Linked DNA regions of Homo sapiens: region 2 is linked to region 1. A link means that fine-mapping ties the variant in region 1 to the expression of a gene that starts in the linked region. Tissue or cell type: thyroid. Region 1 holds a variant in brackets; the other region holds the start of a gene. All regions are shown on one strand. Distances are between the middles of the regions.

Region 1 (8,108 bases):
ACCCGTCTTCCAGTAGGGTCCTATCCTGGGGGTTATTACAAATGCTGGTAGCAGCATGTCATGGAAAGTTTGCTCTGTTTACTTTAATTGTTGTTGCTTTACTTCTGCCTGCTGCAAAGACCCCTTTTCTTTACAGTCCATCGTTTCCAACCCATGCAATGCACAACCTAATACCAACTGAGCTGGCACCACTCCTTTGATGTATTTTTTCAGAGGAAGGTTATTTTTGCTGGCTTGAAAGGTTTTCTTTTCTAGCTTTAGGTAAAAATCAGCAAAGATTCCAGTTCTTATCAATTGAGTGCTTAAGTAAACAGAGCAGGTGCCAAAGTCAATAGGATATGGAAAACAAGATTCTGCTGAAGATTATTTGTAATGGGGATCAACTGCTGACATAGAATCAGGAGTTCACACTTGATGAAAAAGAACATGAAAGAGGAAAGAGCCCAAATTTCAAAACACAGGGGCAGGGTTGGTTTGCCTGCAGCCAAGTCGGTTAGGCAAGGCTCATGTTTTCATGAAACTAGATGGGGTTTCCTTCTTGCATCGGAAGAAAGCTCTCACAAATACAGAGAATAAAACTCTCCATTCTGCCTCATCCTCATTTTAATAAATTCTCAGTGCCTGCAGTGACGTCCTGACCACTTCACTCACTTAGGACAGTCCCTTCTGTGCCTGGACTCAGAGCTCCAAGGCATAAGTGCTTTGGCAGAGCAATGAAGAAGGGTGCTGGAGTATAACTGTTCAGTGGCAGAATAACCATGGCAATGCATAATCAACCTGTTCTGCCTGCCAAGGCCCTGAAGCCACACATCTGCTAAACAGGGTGTGCTTCCTCCTGGCTTTCATGCCCCAAAGGCACACTCAAGACCCTCCACTAGCCACAGGATTGAAAAGGTTGGCTCCTCCAGTCCTTCACAGCAAGGTGAATTTACATCCTCTTTCCAGGTATGCCTCCCCGAAAGCATCCCTGCTAACTTTGGGACTACGTGATCGCTCAGTGCTCTTTCTCCTCCTACTGTTTTATGTCCTTTGACACATATCACCTTTTGCAGGCTGCTGAGATCACTCAGTATCTCATGAGGAAACCTCACATTTTCATATTTACAGTTATATCCATGGCCTATTATTTATAATTATACTGTCTGTAATTATGAAGGACATTACTCCTTCATCCCTACTTTGATAGCAAGGCACAGTGATTTCATCTTCATTTTTCCAGCGGAGAAACAAACAAAATAGGCTGAAGAATATACACCCAGGCTGTCAGTGGTAAGGCACACTACAGAATAATGGTTCTCTCAGCATAAACCTTCAAGAACGTCCAGATGGAGAAAAGAACATACATTTTTCCTTTGTCTCTTTCTATAAAAATGGATAGTATTTTAGAAAAGGAAAAGAGACAGATAAAAGTGGGTAAGAATTGTTACCAACCAAACTATGATAACGGGAAGAAAATTTTAGAAAGCAGTACACTACATGTTATTAATATTTTCCTGTTTCATGGTCTTCCACCCAGAAGAACAAAGAGAATTTGTTGGCAGCTGTCAAGAGTCAGCTCTGAGCTGGAGTTAATGCTACTATGTGGCTCTTTGGGCATATTTTTAACTTCTTAGTTCCTCATCTGAAAATAAGGATATAAGAGTAGTTATCTCAAAGGGATGTTACAGGGCTACATGAAATGATGTATATAAATAGTAGTAACAGGGCCTAGTACAAGGCAAATGGTTAATATACCTTGTGACATATTATTATTATTTATACCACTGGACGAAATTTCAGGATTCTGACCTCAGTAAGTATGAGCATAAAATTTTATTTCCAAAACCATTCACTATGAAAGAAAACCATGGAAGCCATTCTCTTGACTAAGAACTCGACAGCCTTCCGGACAATACAAATATATCAGTAGAGGCTCAGTGATTGTAGATTTTGTGTCAAACTCTGGGAAATCTTAACTGGCAGTGTGAAAAATAAACCTACAATATGCACAACCACAGGTCACAGATACAGCCATGCTGTACGTAATAGAGAACAGCGGCTACTCCTGTGTGTCCTATTATTCCAGCGGATTTCAATTTAGGATCTTTGTGAAATTACTACCAAAAAAAAAAAAAAAAAAAAAAAAAACCCACAGGCACTATTTCATCAGGAAAAAAAAGCAATTACCTTATATCCACCCTGTCCCATTTCTAAGAATCGTTCCACTATTACATAAACCACCTAAATGAATTTTGGAGTGCCTCCAGGCGAGAGGACAGAGGTTCCTGAAATCTGTTGATATGATGACAAGCCACTGCTATAGGAAAAAATGAGTTAGGGGCTCAAACTATTTTTGATCCTAAGTTGGAAGAACCTCTGATTTTTATCCTACAACCCAAATATAGATCCATTATTTCATATGGGTCACATGCCTCTCTTACATCCTGTATATTTTTATAACTCTAACATGAAGATCCATAAGTACATAATATAGAGGACTATGAAGTTTGCTTCTAGAAAAGTACTCTTTTTGGTTTTTTTAAAAAGCATTTTTAGCCCAGAGATGAATGTGTTTAAAAGACTATTAAAGATACAATGGCTAAAGAACAATGTCTTATGAGAAATAAGAATTGATCAACTTTGAGGTTTGACCTAATGCAACTGATACCCCTACTTACTGTTTAGGAATTATAGGTCACATCAATTTCAAAATCAAAATTCTGAAAATATGTGCTATTGTCAGGAAATGTTAAAAAGGAAGGAAAACAGGAAAGATTTGTCATGGGGCAAGACTAAACACAGGTTAAGTGGCAGTGATGCTCATGCTTGGGAAGTTATCTGCTCATTAATTGCTTCAGGTTTGGTCTGTTCATGCTTACTCTTTCTCTTTAAATGGCCCCTGAAGCCAGAAACAAATCAGCAAGATGTACAAATGCCTTATTTTCTCTGCCCTGGTCTGCCCTACTCATTCATAAACAAACGTGTGAATGCCGTTTAAGAAGCTAAGGCCAAGGCAAGCTTATTTCCTCTCTCCATATACTATAACCAGCACAACCACAAAGTTCAAACTCTGCTGGAGCAGTGTACCTAATGCAATCTACAGGGACCAAAGGACAGACAGTATAATTTATAGGTTGGCATGCTATGCAGGACAATGGTATCGATCCTGCTTTTCTATGAAGAGAGGATAATTACAATAAGATTTGCTCACCTAGAAGTTCAGGGTTTCGTGTGGAATGGAAAAGTTTAATTGAAAAAAGCTTACATTTTCAAAGAACAAATAACCAGTCTTTCTGGGAAATGGGCACTTCAAAAGTAGGAGAAGAGAATATTTAATAAAGCTCTGCAGATATTTTACTGGTTACAACTGTCTCTTACCCCAGAAATGACGTCAGTGGCAACATATGACAGTATCAATAGTGTGCCCTAGTGTGCCCTTGTTTCAAGCCTTAAAGAAATTGCACTACCTTGCATCACAAGAATGGTCAGATGACATCATAGTGAATAAATTTATCTGAAAACATAAATGAAAATTTAGAAGGGAAACAAGAGGAGACATGAAAATTGGTGTAATGCAGCAGAATCAAGAAAAATTAGGATAAAGAAAGGAAAAGTAATTACAGAGGATATAAATAAATTAAAAGAAAGGCAGAGATCCTAGTTAAAGGCCAACGAGCAGTTATTTTTTTTAAAGTCCCTTGTAAAAAATAAAAATCAATAAAAGCAAACGAAAGAACCTGTGGCTTCCTGGCTAGAGATATAAGCTGTGTTTTAAATCGCAGTTCCCCAAAAAATGACTTTGCAGGTTTATACTTTGATTTTGCATGGTATATCTATATTACTAGCCCAATTATGTCATCTTTTTTTCGCCCTCTTTGAGCTCTTTGAAATAAGGTCTGTTTTATATGAAAACACAGCCCATGTCTATGATGGAATAAAAACCCCGTAATTAAACATGCAGAAATAAATATGATTACCCACAGCAAGAAAACAAATGCCATCACTCATGTTAATCTATTAAAGTATTTCAAGGCAAAGATGCTGAGATTTAATTTCCTAGTGAAAGTCAGTTTCACTACCTACCAATAAAAATGCAATAAAATGAACTCTCAAAAAAAAAAGCCCTCTGCCATTTGCTATAAAAGTCATGACTGGCTATAATATAACCAAAAAAGTGACTCTAACAGGAGCATCTATTGTTATTTTATAATTTCATTGAAAATATTTTAATTTAGTTCTTATATTTTATACACACTTTGGTTAATGTATATGTATCTATAGATATACATAACACAATAAACCTTCTAGTCAAGAGAATAAGGAACATAACACAGACTATAGCTAAACTGCTGACATTAGGCTCAGCTCATAGATCTTGCTTACCAACTATTTGCTGAATGAATAATAATCTACACATCATTTACATGTGTTTTATATTTTGGCATGGGTAGTGCTGGCTTTTCAATGAAAGGCATTCTTGGGCCTACACAAATACTTTCATTATCTGACTGATGGGGGTACAGGCTGATTTATGGGTGTGTTTACCCTGTAAGTGATTCTCTAACTCTGGAGGAACTGAAAAGTATCTAGGTTCTCCATCTTGTGATTTCAGACTTAGCTGGTTCCTATGAAAGCCAAGTGCAATACCCCAGAGCAGGGGAGATGAACATTTTATATGCAAATGATTGATGTATTGTATATAGAAAGAATTGGAAAATTTCAAAATATATATATATTTCTATAGGAAGGAAGGCATGGGGTGGATGTGTTTTTAACTATTACACATGGATTAACTCAACTTTTTAATAAACTGGGGAAACTAGGACTTTCTTCTAGAGTAAGTGAATAA[T/C]ATCAGTATTTCATACACAATAGTTTACAATTGGCAGCAGGTAACATCTAAGTGATTCTTTTCTGATGGAGATCCTCTTAAGGAGACTAAGCCTTGCCCCGAACTTCAGAATTTCAACATGACTATAGCAGAAGAGAAAAGACTGAGAAAGACTACCTAGCAAATTTAAGGAAACTTCTTTGTAAGTAATTACTTTAAAATTATTTTTATAATATATACTGTGCATACTTTCTAAATGCATCTGTTTAGCAGGAAATTAATGATTCATCCAGGAAAAATGAGTTAGGCTGTATTAAGCCGTTATTACTTTTCATTGTTTAACCTTGCAAAGCAGTATCATGAAATAAGTAAGAGAAATATTTAACATGACCTGGTACCAGCAGTTCTCTTAAATATTTGTTTGTTTAGCTGAAAGGGAATTTGTAAAGAGGGTGGAAATAGTCTGTGAAACCAAGAGGTGTTAGTGCCATCTGGACCCACTCTCTTCCAAATTCCCTCTGTCACCATGCCCTCCTCTTCCTCAAGGAAAACAGTGAGCTGACTTTCTTAGCATTCTAATCACCATCACCTCTAAAACTACAGCAAGGCTGAGAGGTTCAGCAAGACATGCTAGGCAAGGCAGCAGAGTGAAATTCAAACCTGTCAAGGCTCAAGTGGGTGAAAAACCCAAACATGGAATTGACCAGATTCTCTTCATCACCGTTGGTATTAGCATCTTGCAACCGCGGGCCCATTTCTTTACCAAACATGGATTACTCTGTTGTGAAATTCAATCACTTTCAACAGGCATCTAGAACTCGACCTACATCTCTTAGCTTTGTTAAGATCAGCGGTGTACAGCTCCCTGAAATACCATTTTTAACATTACACTTCTTATCTAGATCTTTGTTTAACTTGCAGGGATCCAGATCATATGTAGTACACACTGTATTCCAATCTAAAAGGATGGGGAGGGAACAGGAAGGGAAGGAAGGGAAAGAGAGGAAGAGAGGAAGAGACACAGGAAAGAAGGAAGGGAAGAAGGAAGGAAGGGAAGAAGGAAGGGAGGGAGGGAGGGAAGGAAGGAAGGAAGGAAGGGTAGAAAAGAGAAGGGTAGGGAAGGAAAGGAGAGGAAGGTGGGGAAGAAAAGGAAGGACGGAAAGGGGGGAAGGAGGGAAGGAGGGGAAGGAGGGAAGGAGGGGAAGGAGAGAAAGGAAGACAGGAAAGGGAGGAAAGAGTCTACCTAAATTTCTACTCTGAATGTTAATGCCTGTTAATAATAAGAGGGAAGACTTTTATACTCTTTTTTTTTTCAAGGCCATTTTCTTTTCTCCTGTTTACCTTAATGAAAAAACAATTTATAGGTAAAACATTTTGAGAAGGCAATAAAGGTTTTTTTTTTTTTCCAGTTCTGAATTGAGGTCACATGTTTCACATAGCATCAGGCTTCTTTTTATTTCCTTACAAACTCCCCAAAAGCTTTTTTAAACAGAGCTGTCAGCTCTGTTTGTTCCAGTCCCTGATTTACAAAGCGTCCATGGATGAGAGCAAGTACCAAGTAGGAAAGTTACTGCAGCATTTCCATTACAAACCATGCTTTTCAATCTCCCCTTCCTGCTTTCCACAGCAGCTCTCTCTGCTCACCCCAACCCTGGCATGAGGAGTATCTAGGATTTCAGGGCAGGAGATGGTTTTCAGCACTGGCACAATCATGAGATTGAGTCTCCAGACCCAGCAGCAGTGTGGGTTCTGTGCTTTATCCTCCAGCACTGGGATTCCAACGCAGAGACAGGACTTTGACCACATAACCTGGGAGATCTTTTCAATACAATACGTAGTCTGACCTAGTTGAAGACCATTGCTCTAAATCCATAGGAATGAGTGAATCAAAGAAGGGAGGGTTTTCTGTTGCCCCAATCAGCCCCCCTCAACCATTTAGAGTGACCACTACTACCTTCATTTCACTGCCAGATCGTAAGTTGTTGTCTTTACTTCTCCCTATTCCCTTAATCACCCTCTCTCAATCAATCTTCTGCTCTCAGTGGACATGGAAACAACTCTTTCAGAGGTCTCCAAAAGCCTACGTGTGGCTTCTTCTCAGTCTTCACCCTCCTCTGTAGTGTCTGACGCCATCAGTCACCCCCTTCTTCTTGGAAATGCTGCCTAGTTCTCCACCAGCCTCTCCAGCCATGCTTCCTTTCTCTGCTTGGCTCTTTCTTTCCTTTTACTGATCCCACGTGCAATCATCTGCCAGAATTCCATGCCCAGCCCACTACTTCTCCATATTAGCCCACTGACCATCTTGGCCATTCTCTGAGCTGCAGCTATCACCTGTACACAACTAACAGCCAAGTCTCTTCCTTCCCTAACTCAGGCCCTCTTCAAAGCACTTGAGTTTTGTAATGGCCTGAAGGCACCTCACCTCAACTCACTCCTTCCGTTGGTGCCTCTGTACTTTCCTATTTCCATTCGTGTCTTTCCATCTCCATACTTAGGCCCCATCACACTAGCTATAAATGTCAGCTTCTTGGACTGTTTTTACTTCTTTGCCTAACACATCAAACACAGGAGCAGAGTCCTGCCTGTTCCTACCTAAAATGATCTTCCCATGTTGACACCCCCAATTTCACATCGCCTGTGGGAGTACCAATACCTGCTCTAAATGCTAACTCCTGGAAATTTTCTCTGGTCTCCTTTGAATGCAAGAACTCTATTCTTTCCAGTACTATTCTATAACGTAATTGTAACACCTCATACTCTGCTGATGAATAACAAAATGAAACCCAGAAACGAAGAGCTAATGAAAGTATATTCTTACAGTACATTTAGAAGAATTATCCTATTCACTCCCTTAATGGATTTGTTTTGCTTTAACTACAGAAGGAGATAGATGTGAAATAATGATAAATTTAATAATTTCATTAAATCAATCCTACATTTAGATCCACATATCTGTTTGGATACACTATGTATAGTAAAAAGCATATGAAGCTTAGTAAGCCATCAGTATGAAACCTGAAAATATGATTTAAAAAGAATTATCTCCATTAGCGTAAATTGGAATTTTTGCTTTAAAGTAAAGAAACAACGGTTGCCTTTCAACTTAAACACACCAACTCTAAGCCCTGGTAACCATAAGACCCGGAGTTGTAAGAAGATCTGAAGCTCAAGAAAATTAGCTCCATTCAGGATGTTCATTTGTTTATAGATTTGGACAGACTGCATAACAGCAGCTTTTCAATGGAAGCCAAGATTTTAACATGGTATTTTAAAGTACCTTTAGACTAGCATCAGCCATACA
Region 2 (8,106 bases), 180 kb after region 1:
GCAAAACTCCATCTCAAAAAAAAAAAAAAAAAGACTGGCCTAAACTTTGCCTGTTTCAATAGCGATAATTCAATCAATTAAAGGGGTTTACTAAGTCTTCCTATTTGATAATTAAGATCTAAAGAGTAAAAGACTTCAAAAACGTGTAAAATAAGAACAGGTTAACAGGAAAAAAATGTTTCTTCTAGGAACTGAAAAAAATTTCAGGATAACTATATGTAACATGAAGCAGGCACTCAAGGCCACTTGTATTACACAGACTTACAAATTATATTAAATGAGGTTATCTATGTACCACCAACAGAAATATTTAGTGAATATTCATGAAAATTAATCAATTAAAGAAAATATGTGCTTTATACCTACAAAATATATAAAAACATTAACCAAGTTAAAATGAAGTATGCTCTTGTATATCTACATAGAATACAAAGAGTAAGTTTTGAGTGTCAAACACTAACATAAATGAATTCAAAGAATGAATAAGTTAAAAGACAACAAGAAAATAATTCAAAATTTAATGTAATATTCTTATAGTGGTAGATTTCAGGGTTCACGTTTCTAAAGTTAAAATAAAAATATATAATATATAAGCATACGGAATAAATTTGGAAGACTGGCATAGTTGCCGAATATAAATCAACATAGCCCAAATTTTACTGCCATACTTTCATCTAGTCAGGTACCCACTAATTGTCTTTTTAAATGTCTCCATATTATTAATACACAAAAGTAAATAATTACATGAGCAAATGCAAGGGTACCCACTTTTATCCCTGTCAAACAAATCCTCTTCCATTAAAATGGTATCAAGCCTTGAACTAAAATTTACTTTGAAAACAATTTTACATTGATTTTCATTTCAAAATACTTATTCCTCCATAAACTAGTTAAAAATATTAGTAGATCTTTAAACTGTGAATGGATACATCTTATAATCTCCTCTAGATAGGTTTGTTTAAATGATAGAAGGAACCAGAACATTCAGTGTACTCATCAAAGCAGCGAATCAGGAATTCCTCAAATGAAATCCCTCCCTAATATCTTCCTTGTTGAAATCAACCGTCCTGGATTCAAAAACTCCTGAAATCACACTCATACACATACACGCACGCACAAATCCACATTTAGCGTATATTACTACAGAAATAGTGTAAGTATTGTAGTATTCATGTTGCAAAAGCAATATACCAAGAACATGAAGCAGTAGCAATTCTTGCATGATGTTCCGCTAATAAGAGGAAAAAAAAGTTCTCCACACTACCACCACTTTAGCAGTAAAATTGGTTTACACTTTTTCTCAGAAAATTATCTCCAAGTTCATTTTTAAAAGCACAGTGTTATTTAAATACACAGTATGGAATTAAGCATCCATGTAAGTGTATTTCCCTTAGACATTCAAACCTAGGCCCACTGAGAAACTCCCTGGGCTTTAACTCTTAGCTGCTGGGAAACTCAGAGCTGTCACTTTTCAGGCAAATAGGGTTGGCTGGAGAGACCTCAACTGCCCAGTTCACAATTAAACAGAAACAAAGACTGTCAACAGGGCAATAAAATAAAAAAAAAACACAATTCTTAAAACAAGTCTCTCTAAAATACGTGCGTTTCCCCTTAATTATACACTTAAAACACTCTTATTTCTTTTGTTCTTTATTTTCTTCTCAACCTTGAGAACTCAGAAAACATTCAACTGCCTGTTTTCAGCCACTAGAAGTAGCTCAAAATGAGAATTAAAAAAAAAAAAATCTTTACTTTCCAATTGCAGTTTGCCTCCTCCCTGGCTTCATTCCCCTAAGCCCAACTCTTTCATCCAGTGCTTTTGCCTTCTGCTTTTTATAAACATGTGCACATTTATCTAATTGAGTTTCAAAATGAAGACATAAAGAAAGCATGTCATGGGAATTAACTATTAGTAACTATGTGTGTGATCAGTATATTTTGTTCCTGCTTGTAAATGATCCAGTACATAAGCAGTTCATTCCCAAAGGCAATTGGTTCCTTGAGCCAGCAAATGGAATGCTCAAGATAAGAAAGAAAATGCATGCTTCTCACAAACACCAACTAACAGTACAATATTCTTTTCTTACAGAAATGTTTGAGAAACACATTTATTATACATGCAAATACCCAGAACACAAGTGCAGACATTTTTCAGGCCCGTTACTGCAAAGCTGTTTGCTCTTCCTGCCACAGTAGCTCAGGGTTCTGTCACTGTGGCTTGTATATGAACCCTGATCGCTTGATTCTGAACATCCTCCCAGAGATAATCATCAATAAATTTCTATTTGAGAAATGGCATTTTCTTGCTAACTTAGTGTTGAAGCAGAATTTTTTTTTCAAGACTAGAGGGAAATTTTTCCTGTATGCTTCCCGTTTTTCCTTCTCGCCCAGATTCCAAAGACATTAAAATGCTATCTGTTTTAAACAAAAGGTTTCTATTTGTTGCCAAGAGAGTAACTGAGAGACTGCACTGGTTTTCGGTAGTAACTATTGTGAACTGAGGCCTACATCTAGGTTGCCTCATTAAACAAAAGATACCGGTCGCTGTCAACAACCACACAGCACAACGCTCCCCTACCCTCATCTTTATCTAGAAGGAATGGTGCAGACGAGAATAACGCCTGTCACCATCCACTGGCCAACTCTTCTAGGCTCCCTCCTTTCGATGGTCTGGTGGCTAGAGAACAGCACTTGTGTGACACATTTGGGCTTGCCCTCCCGCCTCGCCCCCAGTACACAGACCCTTTCCTTGGAGGGCCAACCACTTGGCTTCCTCACCATGAGTGCTCCGGGAATCCAGCTGCGAGTCTGCCCACCGTTCCCCCATTCCCTCCTGACCCCATAGGGCACTGATAATGGATGCACACCGGCCACTCCACCGCAGGCCATCCCCCAACGTGCCCCGGCTCCGCTCGCCACCCGCTGGGCCACACACACGGCTCCCCACGCCACCACCCCATGGGGTGCCGCGGCCACGACACTGGAAGTTCAACCCCTCTGCCCACCTTTCCACCCCCGCGCCTCTGGTCGGAGTGATCTGCCATTTAGCAGATGCACAGCAGATAAGGTACAGCCCTCAGGGACACGAAAAGGAACAAGCCAAGGCACCGGGCAGGGCAGCCCCGACCCCTGTGCTGCGTGTGTGTGTCGCTGTGTGTGTGTGTGTGTGTGTGTGTGTGTGTGTCTGTGTGTAACGCGCCCGCGCGCCCGCGCGGGTGAAGGCAGTGGCCGGGGGCGCGCCCGGGAGGGTAGGGGCGAACCGCGGGCGCCGGGGGGCGGGGGCGCCGAAGGCAGCTGCCCCGCAGGGCCAAGGATGGTGGGCTGGGGGCGCAGAGGCCCGGCGGGGCCCCGGACGGTACTCACCGAGCAGCAGCAGCTTGAGCTCCCGGCGGGCGTCCCGCTTGTCCCTGCGGAGCTGCCGCTCGATCTCGTCGTTGATCCGCCGGGCTTCCTTGGCCTCCTCGCTCAGGCAGCACGCCATGATGGACTCCAGAGTCATTCTTCCAAAGTGCCTCCGCTGCAGCCCCGCCGGCACCCCCTGCTCACAGCGCGCACACACACCCTCCCGCCCTCGCTCCCCCGAGGCAGCGGTGGCCGCCGAGCCCCCGCCGCCCGGGCGCGCGTCCGGGACGAGCTCCGGGAACCGCCGCGGGGGCGGCGGCCAGGGCCGGGGCCACCAGGTGGGCCGGGGGCGCGGTGGGAGCGGATAGTCTGGGCCGACGGGAGAAGAGAGGCGGGCGCGGGAGGCGGGCGCTGGCTCGGGGGGCGCGTGAGAGAAGGCCGCCGCGCCCGGCCTCGCTCAGACGCCCGCGCCTCCTTCCCCGGGAACAGGCGGCCCGCCTCGCCCCCCGAGCCGCCGCCGCCGCCGCCGCCTGCGAGGCTCCCCTACGCCGTGCGCCTGGCGGCGAGAGCTCATTCACCGGGGTGTCCCCGCAGCGAGCGGCCGCCGACGGCTCCCCGCGCCCGGCGCGCCCGCTCCTCGCCGCCGCCTGACACGGCTCCCGGGCGCCCTCGGCCCTGTCCGCGCCCACCGCCCGGCTCGCGCGCAGACCCGGTTCCCGTCCCGCCCGGCAACCGCGCGCTCCTCCGCCTCCGCCTCCGCCCCCGCCCCCGCCAGACGCCCACCCCCTGCCCCGATTGCCAGGCGCGGAGCGGCTGCTCAGTGCGAGCCCTCCCCCTCGCCACACACACACATTTTCTTCTTTCTCTGAACTGGAGCACAGATCCGGGAGGGAGGAGGCGGCGGCGAAAGGAGGAGGAGGAAGAGGCGGAGGGGATGGGCGCGGGAGGAGGGAGCCGGGAGGCGGTGCCGCCCGGCCCCTCCTGGAAGGCTTTCCTGGGCTCGCGGCCGCCGCGGCGCGCCTCCCAGTGCGGCTCTCGCCTCGCCCGCGCGGCTCCCGGGCTGGGCCGGCCCCCGCGGGCTCTGCGGACGCCTACTGCTCCCGCACCCTCGGCAGAGTCCGCGGGCGCAGCAGTCACGGCCGCCCCCGGCCGAAGTCGGGGCCAGACCCGGCCGCCGACGCGCAGCCCGAGCCGGCGGCCGCCGTTGCGTGCCAGGGCCGCAGCCGACCTGCGGCTGCCGTCCGGCCGGGCGTGGTGAGACAGGAATATGGCGGCCTCTGCCTGCCTCAGCCCACCGGCCCGGGAGCGCGGCCGCGGCCCCTGCTGAAGTCGCGGGAGGCGGCCCCGCGGAGCCCCGCACGCGCTCCCTGCGGCGCCGGCGCTGGCGTCCGCCGCTCCCGGGCTGTGCCTGTCTGCTCCACGGGGTCGCTCCTCAGCCGTTTCTGTGTTTCCCGTTCCTATTTCTAAAACGCCATTCGGTTAGAAACTCTCACGTCACCTCTGACACCGGTGCAGTCTTAGAAAATAAGCTCCTCTATACTGTGTGGGGCTACTGGGGAAGGGAAGGGAAGGAATTGGCACCGGTGCCCAGAGGTGTAGGGGGAGATTCACAGGCGAAGCTGTTCGCAAAGTAACGTGAGATAGAAATCTAAATCCTGAACAGAGAAAGGAAGCTGCCCAAGTTTCCAAGAGCCTCCCGATAGGTTCCAACTTTTCATGCCTTTGTTTTTTTGGTGGTTGTTGGTTGTTTTTGTTTTTTTAAGTTGTTTTTGTTTTTGTTTTACAAGTTCTCTTGTTTCTGAGAAGGCACACGATGTTTAGCCGCCGAGTAATCGAATTTACTCTTCTAGACTGAGATTGAATTATGGATGACTTATGGGAAAATGTAAAATAATGTGGAATAAAAGGAAAGGAAAGAATGAAATAGAAGAGAAACTAAGGAGGCCCCAGCAAAACGGCATTCTAGTTTTTTTGATTTGCAATATGTGATTGAGGCAGTAAACTGTCGTATGCACATTTCATTGTGATCGTCTACTGATAAATAGCACACGAAAATAATCTTGTTTAATCAGGCCCAGGAGATGAAACTCATATTGCTTCCTGCCTTAAAGGAACCTGAGGTCTTCAAAGAAAATTGTCTTTTATGAAGAGAACCGCTTTTTCACGTTTCATGTGTTCTCTGAAGTGTCCCTGGTGCAACCTGCTGATCCAGAGTGTAAGGTACGGTCATGACTCTGCTTTTGCTACAGATCAAGAACTCATATAGGGTTCTTAGACAACAGGTGTGTAACTTCCTTCTTTCTTTCATTTGCCATTACTCCACCGTTTCACACACATACACACACTCTAAACCACGATTTAAATCAAGCAAGTCAAGATATAAAATATATATTTTAGGTTCTCTGTTTAAAACCTAGAAAATAATTAAATTTCACCTTGCCCTGGAGAGCAGAGAGGGCAAACCTCAACCCTTTTATGTGAATGCCTACAGAGAACAGCTAGACTTGCTATGAAATTAAAATTTAAAATCAAGTGACTAAAGAAATTAAAGATTGAAATTCAGTATGCAAAAATAGAAAGTGGCTTCAGAAGAAAAAATTTTAAGTTTGCATCCTCCGAATATATGTATGTATATGAGCTTTGGAGAGACACAGAACACTGGAAAACCAAATGACAGAAAGCTTGAAGTCTCTGGTTACCTACCCAGGGATCCTCTGAGACTTTTAAAAATGTCTTTTAAAATGAGCCATCAGGCTATCAGGTAATATGTTTTGACTGAATTGTCCTATTATTTGATGAATTCATCTGTTTCAGCGGGCTATAGAGTCAGAGTCTGTTTTGTCCCCCCTGTATCCCCCCAACATCATGAACACTCCCTGGCAACTTAGATACTTAAATGGATGCAATGAATCAATAGGAGAATGTTTCAAGTATTGGGGAGAAACCAGGAAGTAAGAAAAACCAACACTCTACAGTGATAAAGCCATATATGGGTGTCAAGAAGGAAACAGGAAAAGAAATTCCAAGTCTGAGCCCAGATCTATCCAAAAACCTTTTCATATTATCTGGAGAGCGTTTGCCAAGCAAATATTCCTAGAGACTAAGTCAAACAAATAGAACCCATGCAGAAACAACTGATAGTTGACCATGTTCTACAAGCACATACTCTAAAACATGCAACTAAACAGGGATTATGTTACAAAATCCCAGTTCATTCAGTCAACAAGCATTTATTCATTGCCTACTATGTGTAAATAACAGGTGAAGGTACAGGATAAGAGAGATACTAAAATGAATAAAATACAGTCCTTACCCTCCATAGGCTTATAGTCTTATAATGAGGCTCTAAGCAGCTATAATACAAGACTAAAATCAATTTGTATAAAATTTGGGGTGGAAGTAACAACATAAAGGTATAAAAAGGAAGGGGAGAACTGGAAAAGATACGGCAGGAAAAGGGGCATTGACATGCATGTTAAAGAATGAAAAGGTTTTCAATAAATAGGTACCTACATCACCTCAAAGTAAATGAGCAATTCCAAGTCACCCCACACAGAGAGTAAGATGATAAACCATTTTGAGAATTCAAGGACAATTACTAATGAGCTGAAAAGCAAATTGCAATACCCAAGGAAAATTGAACTTCAGAGAAAAATAGGAAGACTGTCACCTTTTCTATGGTATCCTGAGATGGATCTCCAACCCCACAATCATATCACCCTGTCCTTTGGGGACTGGCAAAGAAAAACAGTAAAAGGCATAGTTTAGTCTTAAGGAGTGGTTCTGCAGTCAAAGAATGAAAAGGCCATGCTCTTCTAAAAGGATCTCCTGGGGAAGGAAAGGCCCATAGAGGTCATCAGACACAGGCAATATACAGTACCTCTCTTATTCCCAGTCACTTAGCATGGCTGCTTCATATGCACCATACTACTGTCATTCTCTGTGTTCTCTTTCTCTCTGCCCCCTTCCCCTCTGAATTAGGAGCTTCTTGAGAGCGGGGACCATGTTTTTCATAACTGTTTTCAAGGCACCAGAAAGAGAGCCTAGCCTAGAACAGCTACTCAGTAAATAATGAATAAACAAAAGAATGCTACCACCTACATCATCAACAAACACACACTTACAGACTGCCTGTCCCAGGCAGTGTATTATGCCAGATGCCTGAGGCATACAAAGCCCTTAAAGGCTTCATAATCTATTTGGTGAGACAGGCCATGTGTTTCAAAGAATAAACAATACAAAATGAGAAACACTCGTTGCTAACATACAGTATGGAAAATGGATTGCTAACAAAGTTCAAGAGAAGCAGTTCCCTAAGCTGCCATTCAAATTAACCCAGAGTATGAGGAAGCACACGCTGGTCACCCAGAAGACCTTTTAGAAATCAGCCTGAAGAGCATCGCAGATCCTACAAGAGCTGGGAAAGAGATGTCTGGCCAAGTAATAAAGTGGACTTGCTCGTGGGGAAGAAAAAGAAGCCGACCTAGTGAGACGCTGAGAGCTGCAAATGGCGCCACCTACAGGAACATTCTTATAACAGCAGAAAAACTGAGATTCTTAATTGGAACTGTCCTGTTGAAAGAAGAGCAGGGCCAACATGTTGAAGATGAAAAACTAGGCACGAAGCACATCTTCTAAAAGAGAAAATACCCACATTACAAATCATATAGCAGATATTCTAGAATCTAAATGAAGCATAGTACCTCAGTGACATCTTTCCTTTACCAAGCTCAAAAAACGTACCCGGGTAATACTCTGATTCCA

What was found. PIP is the estimated chance that this variant, and not a neighbour inherited with it, causes the effect.
Region 2: GNAQ starts here. The variant in region 1 is fine-mapped to the expression of GNAQ in thyroid (GTEx, PIP above 0.99).

The regions. Positions count from the first base shown.
Region 1 is chr9:77,851,674-77,859,781 of GRCh38, forward strand. The region is part of intron 2 of GNAQ (G protein subunit alpha q); the gene reads right to left. Among named protein-coding and RNA genes, the nearest start is that of GNAQ, 180 kb to the right of the region's middle. RefSeq lists a silencer at 4,446-4,646. The variant T/C (reference allele first, on the strand shown) is at 4,829.
Region 2 is chr9:78,027,737-78,035,842 of GRCh38, forward strand. It overlaps GNAQ (G protein subunit alpha q), which reads right to left and starts at 4,075. Exons shown (of 7, transcript NM_002072.5): 1 at 3,364-4,075. The coding sequence starts at 3,499. RefSeq lists an enhancer at 3,264-4,158.